3 linked regions of the Homo sapiens genome follow. The protein of the gene in region 3 purifies or fractionates together with the protein of the main gene of each other region. This does not show direct contact. Each region holds a gene or a part of one and is shown on either strand. Other genes may lie near its edges. The genes, in order: ANKHD1, USP34 and EIF3M.

Region 1 (3,654 bases), on a different chromosome or scaffold from region 3:
TTGCGCCATACGATCGTGAGCCACTGCACTCCTGCACCACCGCACTCCAGCTTGGGTGACATAACGGGACCCTGTCTCAAAAAAAAAAAAATTTAAAAAAAGGCCAGGCACAGTGGCTCAAGCCTATAATCCCAGCACTTTGGGAGGCTGAGGTGGGCAGATAGTCTGAGGTCAGGAGTTCGAGACCAGCCTGGCCAACATGGTGAAACCCCATCTCTACTAAAAATACAAAAAAAAATTAGCTGGGTATGGTGGTGGCCGCCTATAATCCCAGCTACTCAGGAGGCTGAGGCAGGAGAATTGCTTGAACTCGGGAGGCAGAGGTTGCAGTGAGCCAAGATTGCACCATTACACTCCAGCCTGGGCAACAGAGTGAGACTCCGTTCTCAAACAAACCAAAAAAAAAACAGCCAAAAAAAAAAAAAAACTTTTCCAACAAGATCAACTATGGATTATAAACTATAATAGTTTGAAAGAGGCATTTATAAGCAACTAATTAAACTCATTAATATAATGCATCAAAAGAAAGTTAGGAGAATCTGGAAGGTAGGATAACTAGAATGGGAATCAGATGGCCTATTTTTCAGTCTTGACTGCTACATATTAACTGTGTGATCTGGGCAAGTCATTTAGCTCAACAGTTCCCAGACTTCTGAGGCTTTTATCCAGGGTCCCAAATGAAGTTTCCAGTTGATATTCTGTTAAGTACAGATAGTTTTAAAAATTCATTTTGTAAAAGTAGGAAGAGTATTTGTCAAAATAGAAAAAAGTGGGAAAAAATAGCTTCATTAGAAATTCACTACATCCTGCTTATTTTCTCCATTTTACTTTACATCTGTGAAAACTTCAATAGGAACTAAACAATGATTTATTTAAAAAACAGCATTTGGTAACCAAAAACTACATATTTCTTAATTTGAAGCAAAATAACAGTATGGGCTCTAAATTCAGTATCACATTCAAATCCCACCTTTACCAGTCACTAGCCATATAACATTTTAACCATTTTTTTGTTTTTTAGATTCATTACTCTAAAAACTCTCTGAGCCTACACTTATTCATCTATAAAAATGTAGATAATACCTACCTCAAAGGGGTGATGAAACGATTAAATAAAATAACGAAAGTATCTAGTACGGTACTGGTATATAATAAGCATTCAATAAATGGTAGCAGTTACCTAAAAATGAGATGAGATAGGATTATCACCAAGATTCTATGACTCTATAGACAAGCAATAGGAGAGGGAAATGTGATCAATAAGGTCTGTGAAGACAGATACATTGAAACAGTTCCTTTATAGTGGGTTTAAAAAAAGAATTGATTTTATTTATTACAACTTTAGTTCTGAGAAAGTAAATTTGGCCAAAAAAAAAAATTTGGTAAACTTGTCATTTATTTTGTTTACTTGCCAATTCAAGGCTAAAACTGTTTAAAACTGTTTTGCTTTTCTTTAAAGTAACATATTTTATTTATATTAGTGATCACTGAATCAGAAGGCCAGAACTGATTTTGAATTCATCTAGTCAATCAGCACTCTACTAACAAATAGACTCAGAAAGGAATGTGCTTAAACTCACCTCCATCCTTCATTCATAACATAATTTATCACTTTAATTTTTTAAAAAAGTCTAAATCCTTCTCAAATTTACCATTTAAAAATTTCACATAAATAGCATCTTACCATCTGTGTAACAGTAGGGAAAATACACATAGTTGTATTTTCATAAAGAAATTCTGAAAGGCTATATAATACTTTTATTAAAAGTATAAAGAGCAAGATATGTGGGAGCAGGGTGAGATTGAGACTTCACTGTATCTGCCCTTATATTACTTTGACTTATGAACTATATGAATGTAATTATCTATTGAAAATATACTAATAACAACAAAAACCTCTCATACTTAAAGTTTCCCAAAAAGTTTTCCTCCACCCATACTAATCAACTCTGCATCAACCCCACCATTCACATAAATATACTTATCAATGCATCATTTTATATGTAAAGTCTTAAGGCTTTACATCATGAAGCTTGTGAAAGGTTGATATTTGTGCAACATACAAAAAATTGTGGCTGGGCGCGGTGGCTCACACCTGTAATCCCAGCACTTTGGGAGGCTGAGGCGGGTGGATCACAAGGTCAGGAGACCGAGACCATCCTGGGTAACACAGTGAAACACCGTCTCTACTAAAAATACAAAAAATTAGCCGAGCGTGGTGGCACGGGCCTGTAGTCCCAGCTACTCAGGAGGCTGAGGCAGGAGAATCACTTGAACCCAGGAGGTGGAGGCTGCAGTGAGCCGAGATCCTGCCACTGCACTCCAGCCTGGGTGACAGAGCAAGGCTCCTCTGACTCAAAAAAAAAAAAAAAAAATTGTTACAGTAATAACATATAATTCTTTTTATTCAATAAGCATTTCCAAAGTCTCCAAAATTAGCCCACTAGAATACAAAGTTATATTTCCTATGTTATCACTACAAATGATAATTTATGGAATAAAGCATTTCTACTTTGAACAAACTGGAAGTCCCCATAAAAGTTTTTTAAAAATTCATTTTCATGGACAACTGAACTTTTTGAAAAATAATATATTTTAAGTGAAAGTTCCCCAAAATGATACATTTACCATAGAAAATTTACAGCAGTGCATGCTAGTTTTATATTAAACCTTTCAGTACCTTCTATTTCTCCCTTGTTCAGGTTATAAGCATAAGTCCTGAAATGCTATTAAAAGCAGTGACTCACCTTGTTTACCTTAAGTTTGAATACAGAGTATAACAAAACTACCATTCCTGACAAGAGTGGCCTCTAGACCGGTAGCTCTCAACCAGGAGTGATTTTGTCCCTAGGAGACATTTGGCAACGTCTGAACAATTTTTGGCTATCATAATCGGGTTCTACTGGCATCTAGTGGGTAGAGGCCAGGGATGCTTCTAATGCACAGGAGAGCCCCTCACAACAAAGAATTCTCTGTCCCAAAATGTCTATATGTTGCTCTTGAGAAACTGCTCTAGATTATAGATCATACTAGCCAAGTATTGTGGTGCACACCTATAGTCCCCTGTAGTCCTGACTACTTGGGAGGCTGAAGCAGAAGGATTGCTTGAGCCCAGGAGTGGGAGACCACATAGAGTTATGACCATGCCACCGCACTGTGTAGCCAGGGCAACAGCCAGCCTGGGCAAAAAAGCGAGACCCCCATCTCTCAAAACACATAACGGTAAAAAAAATTTAATTAAAAATTAAAAAACAGATTATATATAGATCATAAACAATCTTAAAGGATATGACCCAACTCCTTACCTACTGGAGAAAATCAGGATGGGATTTCTGTATGACTTTTGCTTTTGATGTTAAAAGTAATTTTCAGGGAAAAAGGAATCCCTACAAAGCTTGTGCTATATTTTCAGAGCTAAATACAATTTCTGCGTGCTTTTATATAATTGTAAATACAGCACCTGCTTCAAGAAAAAAACCTCAGTGTGATATAAAGCTACACTTTTAAATTTGATATGCCTTTAAAGTATGTGTATATGAACATATATACATATATACATAGAAAGATAGGCCTAGAAAATTTACTGAATGAAAAATTTTAATATTGGTTACCTTGAAGGGTAGAATTTGAAGAATTAATGGGGGTGGGAAGAAG
Region 2 (3,654 bases), on a different chromosome or scaffold from region 3:
TTTCTGAAGTTCAACTTTTTCACCAAATGGTATTGGGATACAACACTTGCTCTTGCCTATCTCACATGAATTATCCATTTTGGACAACTTGGTAAACTATAACCCACCAAACGAATACACAGAGTAAAATCTACAACACATAAGTGGTTTAAAACAATGACGTACACCAGGCGTGGTGGCTCACGCCTGTAGTCCCAGGAGGCGGAGGTTGCAGTGAGCCCAAGATCGCACCACTGCACTCCAGCCTGGGCGAAAGAGCGAGACTCCGTCTCAAAAAAAAAAAAAAAAAAAAAAAGAGGTACTATGTAATTTTCACTCTGCTTTCAGAGAAATTTACCTTACGAGGTAAATAACCTCAGTTTACTAGTGAGTTTGCTATGGTGATGGCCTAAAGCATGTAATTTTAAGCCTCCAACTCCTCACCAAGATCTAGAAATGCTTTGGCCTTTGTAAACTGGTTCACAAAAGTAACTACAAAAGCAGTTATCAGACAAACTCAACAGAACAAGCAGAGGAACAGAAATTTAAAATTTATCCTAAACAGAATGTAATCCCACAAAATGATAACAGCAAAATTTACTCAATACATCCAAGCTTTTTAAATGTTTTTAAAATGAAGCATGAAAAGAAAATGGCAAGTCCAGTATTTTAGTATTGTTGGGATTGGTTATTCTAACACTAAAGCCAAATATGATTTTGAAATGTAGTTTCAACTTTTATGATATGTGTCAAGATTATATTTAAAAAGGGTGGGTGTGGTGGGGCAAGGGTACTTATGATAGGATCCTTAGTCTGGTTCCAGGAACAAACTTCAACGGGTCCTCAACCTGTAAGCACAATTCTGTGTCTGTATGCCTCTGCATGTTTCCACAGTGAAAGTTTACAGCTTCAGATTCTCAGGACTAGAGGTATAACTAATAATATTAATACTCTCACCAAAAACTGATGACAAAACGAACTGTTCATAATCTGTTACTTTTAACGATACTGCATTCTGCCAAACTTTAAACATTCCACATTAAGTCCTTACTCTTATCAAAAAGTCTGTGCATATCTAATACAAAGCTATACTACCCACACTTGTGTCTACCCTTTCATTTAAAACACAATTAACTGGCCAGGCATGGTAGCTCATGCCTGTAATTCCAGTACTTGGGGAGGCTGAGGCAGGAGAATGGCTTCAGACCAGGAGTTTGAGACCAGCCTGGGCAACAATGCAAGGCCCTGTCTCTATTAATAAACAAAAACACGGCTAGGCACGGTGGCTCACGCCTGTAATGCCAGCACTTTGGGAGGCCGAGGCAGGTGGATCACGAGGTCAAGAGATCGAGACCATCCTGGCCAACATGGTGAAACCCCATCTCTACTAAATATACAAAAAATTAGCCGGGCGTGGTAGCGGGCGCCTGTAGTTCCAGCTCCTCGGGAAGCTGAGTCAGGAGAATGGCGTGAACCCGGGAGGCGGAGCTTGCAGTGAGCAGAGATGGCGCCACTGCACTCCAGCCTGGGTGACAGAACAAGACTCTGTCTCAAAAAAAAATAAAATAAAATAAACAAAAACACAACAAAATTTGCTGGGAATGGTAGAGGGAGGGGAGGGATAGGGAGAGATTTGTTAAAGAATATAAAATTACAGTGAGATAGAAGGAATAAGTACTACTACAGAATGACTACGGTTAACAATAATATATGATACAAGCCGGGCATGGTGGCTCATGCCTATAATCCCAGCACTTTGGGAGGCCAAGGCGGGCAGATCACTTGAGTTCAAGAGTTCAAGACCAGCCTGGCCAACGTGGTGAAACCCCATCTCTACTAAAAATACAAAAATTAGCCGGGCTTGGTGGCACATGCCTGTAGTCCCAGCTACTTGGGAGGATGTGGCAGGAGGATTGCTTAAGCCCAGGAAGCGGAGGCTGTAGTGACCCAAGAGCATACCACTGCACTCCAGCCTGGGCAATGGGAAAGAAACCCTATCTCAAAAAAACAATAATATATGATACAGTTTCAAATAGCTAGGAGGATACTGAATGTTCCCAAAGCAAATGCTAAATGTTTGAGATGGATATACTAATTAACTTCAACTGATCACTATACGTTTTATGTATTGAAACATCACTATGTACACCATGAATATGTAAAATTATTATTTATCAACTAAAAATTTTTTAAACAAAATTTTTAGGCCAGGCATGCTGGCTCACTCCTGTAATTGCAGCACTTTGGGAGGTACAGGCAGGCAGATCCCCTGAGGTCAGGAGTTTGAGACAAGCCTGGCCAACATGGCAAAATCCCACCTCTACTAAAAATACAAAAATTAGCCAGGCAAGGAGGCGGGTGCCTGTAGTCTCAGTTACTCAGGAGGCTGAGGCAGAAGAATCACTTGAATCCGGGAGGTGGAGGTTGCAGCTAGCCGACACTGCATTCCAGCCTGGGTGAGAGTTAGACTCCGTGTCAAAAAAAAAAAAAAAAATTTATTACACTCGTTTGCCCAGGTAGCCTTCTCTAAGTGTGATCACTGTTTGTTAATTTCACAAGAAACAGTGTTTTTGGTTTGTTTTTTCAAGACAGCAGTCTTGGCCAGGCGCGGTGGCTCACGCCTGTAATCCTAGCATTTTGGGAGACGGAAGCGGGTAGATCACACGGTAAGGAGTTCAGACCAGCCTGGCCAATATGGTGAAACCCCGTTTCTACTAAAAATACAAAAATTAGCTGGGCATGGTGACGTGTGCCTGTAATCCCAGCCACTTGGGAGGCTGAGGCAGGAGAATTGCTGAACCCAGGGAGGCAGAGGTTGTAGTGAGCCGAAACCGTGCCACTGCACTCCAGCCTGGGTGACACAGCGAGATTCTGTCTCCAAATAAAAAATAAAAAAATAATAATAATAAAAAAAGCAGTCTTACTATGTTGCCCACGCTGGTCTCGAACTCCTGGCCTCAAACAATCCTCCTGCCTCAGCCTCCTGCCGAGGCGGGATTACAGGGGCGCACCACCACGTCTGACTGTTTTGTGAGGTTGCTTTAATACTAATTACGTATTTTTCAGCATGACCTGGAAACACACCACCCAAAAATATGCACAATTTTATTGCTTCTCTCAGCTGGCTAAACTGTTACAGGGTGTCGTATTTAAAGATGAATTCTGAGCACATTTTGGGAGGACTGTAACTTTGTTTTTTTTTTTTTTTTTTTTGAGATGGAGTCTTGTTCTGTGGCCGAGGCTGGAGTGCAGTGGCATGATCTCGGCTCACTGCAACCTCCGCCTACCAGGGTTCAAGCAATTCTCCTGCCTCAGCCTCCCAAGTAGCTGGGACTACAGATGCCTACACCACCACACCCGGCTAATTGGTGAATTTTTAGTAGAGATGGGGTTTCACCATATTGGCCAGGCTGGTCTCGAGCTCCTGACCTTGTGATCCGCCCACCTCGGCCTCCCAAAGTGTTGGGAATACAGGCGTGAGCTGTATTCAGAGTTGCCCGGCCAACTCTGAATTTCTAAATCAACGTTGAACTGATGCTCATCTTTGTACAAGGTACAGGCGGGAAAAGGGCAGACTTTATAGGTAATTACTGCAAATGAGATCACAAGAAACACATATAATCTACTTCAACAAGTTTTATCAAGCTCCAACCACTCATGTTCATTATCATGCTC
Region 3 (3,654 bases):
TAAAATAGTATAGTAGGGGGGAAAAAACTATTTGTTACCATTCTGTGGCTATGGCTTAAAAAAAGGGACCAAAAATACAAATCACCATATATCTAAGGAATAAAGTCTTCTACAAAGAAACAATATTATTTTAAGAATAATGTTTAGCTTAATAAAGTACCTTTAATCATCAAATTTTATCAGCTCTTAAAACATTTCTGAAAGTTACCATTATGATCAAAGTAATGGTAATTCTTTCAGTTGCTTTTCTGCTCACTCCTCCATCTCTAAATTTTAAAAACAAATGTACCAATGGAACTATTTCTTCAATCTTCTCCAAACACCCGATTGTTGATATAACTTTACCTCAAAGAATCATGGTACAGAAGAGCTGGAAGGGCCTAAAGTTCAGCAAGCTCTTAAATGAGACAAAAAGGTTCCAAGTCATTTTCTCTCTCTTTTTTTTTTGTTTTTTGAGATGGAGCCTCACTCTGTCATCCAGGCTGGAGTGCAGCAGTGTGATCTGAACTCACTGCAACCTCTGCCTCCCGGGTTCAAGTGGTTCTCTTGCCTAAGGCTCCTGAGTAGTTGGCACTACAGGTATGTGCCACCATGCCCACTAATTTTTGTATTTTTAGTAGAAATGGGGTTTTGCCATGTTGGCCAGGCTGGTCTTGAACTCCTGACCTCAAGTGATCCACCCACCTCATCCTCCCAAAGTGCTGGGATTACAAGTGCTAAGTTGTTTTCTTTTCTTTCTTTTTTTTTTTTTTTTTTTTGAGACAGACTCTTGCTCTGTTGCCGAGGCTGGAGTGCAGTGGCACAGTCTTGGCTCACTGCAACCTCCGCCTCCATCTCCCGGGTTCAAGCTATTCTCCTGCCTCAGCCTCTCAAGTAGCTGGGACTACGGGCACCCGCCACCGCGCCCGGCTAATTTTTTGTATTTTTAGTAGAGACAGGGTTTCACCATGTTAGTCAGCCAAGATGGTCTCGACCTCCTGACCTCGTGATCCGCCCGCCTCGGCCTCCAAAGTGCTGGGATTATACCTCTAAGCCACCGCGCTGGGCCCCGAGTTGTTTTCATACTCCCAGTTTCATTCTCTTTCTATCACAAATGCCACCTCCTACACCTTCTTGGTTTCTGATTCTCAATTCATTCTAAGTAATATTTTAAACTGTCTACCTATTTTTGTGCTGTTCTATCATACACGACTCCTTTTAGGATAATCTACAAATAAGGCCACAGCCATACTTGCTGGAACACATAGTACATAACTGTTAGTGTATCATGTTCCCACCTCTGTGCCTCAAAGAATAAACCCCAAAACTTACCAAGTGAATCAATGAAGTCTTTATTATTCTGATAAAACTTGACATATGATGCCAATTTAGCACTCACAAAAATGGTTAAAAGCTATACAGATAAGAGACAAAAAAGATACCATCAATACAGAATTCAGATTTATTGTAAGATATTCTAAGATATTGTAAATATTATTTTAAAGATACTGACTCCTACATTTTGTTCAAGGCAGAAATATCATTCTGTTTCATCAAATTACCAAACCATCTGCTTTCACATGGCTCACTTTTAAAATGAAATAATCAGTAAATACACTGAGCTCTAAATTATCCACACTGAAAGATGATGGCTAATGGCATAGTCCAGATGCACAACAGTCCAAAATATATTTATACTTGCATTTGAAAAATGTTCATGTGTTTTTAAATATCAGACTTATATTCCTAAGTGGGGCTAGGAACAATATATATGTAATAAAAAAGAAACTTGTATTATCTAAGTCTATAATGATGAGTAAGTGAGAAGATGAAAGAAAGGGAGGTAGCCGGGCACAGTGGCTCACGCCTGTAATCCCAGCACTCTGGGAGGCCGAAGTGGGCAGATCATTTGGGGTCAGGGGGGTCAGGAGTCGGAGACCAGACCAACATGGCAAAACTCTGTATCTACTAAAAATACAAAAATTAGCTGGGCCTGATGGCATGTGCCTGTAATCCCAGCTACTTCTCCTGGAAGCTGAGGCAGGAGAATTGCTTAAATCAGGGAGGCAGAGGTTGCAGTGAGCCAAGATCATGCCACCGCACTCCAGCCTGGTGACAGAGTGAGACTCAGTCTCAAAAAAAAAAAAGAAATTAAGAAAGGGAGGAAGAATAGGACTCTGCTCAGTGGATGAAGAAAAGCTGGTCCTAAATATGTCTGTTCCTGATATAAAAAGAATACATAGTTCTTAATCTTTCCATATCTTGCCATTAGTCACTTTTATTAATGCAAAGAAAAAGAGTCCTGCTTCAGTATGTAAAATTTAGGAAAGGAGAACATTTTTCACATTAAAGGATAAACTACTTACATCATGAATAAGCTCGCCTTCCAAAAACTTGACTGGTTTTAAAGTAAGAAGGTGGTCAAAAAGAAATGCATTTGGATCTTTCAATGCTCGTACAATACACCTTAATTAGAGAACAAAAATGTAAGCTCAGGGTTTTGAAATCCTGGCTTTTCATTGAGTTTTTGCAGATCATAAAATATACTTAATTCGGCAAAATATCTAACAGTCCAAAACATATAAACAACATTAAAAAAGCTACAGGATTGGGTTAAGACAGGCCAACACATTTATCAGGTTCATCTGTTTTAACAAAATGAAATATATTAATTGTAGATAAAAACATAGCTGGAGAGAAAGCACCAAGGTAATCAAATAGTAAGCAGCAGCAGAACCACATGCCAAGACACTAAGTGCTTCACTTGCCTTACATCTCATTTATTCCTCACAACAACCTAGGAGACAAACAGTATTACTCTGCCCCCTTTATCAACTATGAAGCAGTTCAGAAGTGCTCATTAAGAGGTGGAGTAAGAATGTGAATGGAGGCAGCCTGACCTCAAAGTCAAGGATCTTTACCACCAACTTCCCTTTTTACCAACTCCTATCATGTAGAGGTCCACACAAAGCAATGACCAAAAAAAGAAGTTTCATAATCCTTATTACATAGATTTAGAAAACTGATTCTATTCTTGTTACCAGTTAGATCTAAGACTGTTAAAAGCCCTTATACTCATTAGCAATGGGTTAATTTTTGGCAAGCCATCAACTTTCCACCTATAACCTTAAAATTAGGGTCAATTGGCCCAAGATTAGGTTCTAATTCTTGGGTTGGGATCATCATCCCCATACCAGCAATACCCCCCCCGCCAGGTAAACGCCATGCAGCTACTTCATATTCAATCCACAGTTCTTCCAATATCAAACCTTGAATTTTAGTATCTACATTAGAATCACCAGGAAATACACACTATCAAATGGCTCTGGATCACTGGTAGTTGCAAACATGATTTCAGTTACTTAATTTAATATTGTAGCTTACCTCTACATCGCTGTCAAACCCTCATCAGAGTAACGTTTAACATTACCTGTGGGCATCAACTCGAGCCTGGGAAGCATTGTCCTCTGTGTAACTTCCGAGCAATTCCACCATGACTTTTGAAGCAGCATCACTAAAAAGAAATATTGCTTTAGGAACTTGAAAGCATTACTGCTATTCATTCATTTAAAATATTTTTAAGAGGCAGGTACTGTGCTGATGACATTATAACGGTGACTAAGAGAGACAAAGTCCCTGTCTATGGGAAAAGTCATAAAACCTTCCTTTTAGTAG

The links.
Region 1: the proteins of EIF3M (region 3) and ANKHD1 fractionate together in Homo sapiens (co-fractionation; one large-scale study listed by BioGRID). This does not show direct contact.
Region 2: the proteins of EIF3M (region 3) and USP34 purify together in Homo sapiens (affinity purification with mass spectrometry; 3 studies listed by BioGRID and IntAct, with this or other methods). This does not show direct contact.

The regions. Positions count from the first base shown.
Region 1 is NC_000005.10:140,408,271-140,411,924, reverse strand, and holds part of ANKHD1 (ankyrin repeat and KH domain-containing protein 1), read right to left. Parts: intron 1-3,654. UniProt on the Homo sapiens protein: May play a role as a scaffolding protein that may be associated with the abnormal phenotype of leukemia cells. Isoform 2 may possess an antiapoptotic effect and protect cells during normal cell survival through its regulation of caspases.
Region 2 is NC_000002.12:61,464,446-61,468,099, forward strand, and holds part of USP34 (ubiquitin carboxyl-terminal hydrolase 34), read right to left. Parts: intron 1-3,654. UniProt on the Homo sapiens protein: Ubiquitin hydrolase that can remove conjugated ubiquitin from AXIN1 and AXIN2, thereby acting as a regulator of Wnt signaling pathway.
Region 3 is NC_000011.10:32,593,705-32,597,358, reverse strand, and holds part of EIF3M (eukaryotic translation initiation factor 3 subunit M), read right to left. Parts: intron 3,494-3,654; coding exon 3,410-3,493; intron 2,446-3,409; coding exon 2,346-2,445; intron 1,394-2,345; coding exon 1,312-1,393; intron 1-1,311. UniProt on the Homo sapiens protein: Component of the eukaryotic translation initiation factor 3 (eIF-3) complex, which is required for several steps in the initiation of protein synthesis.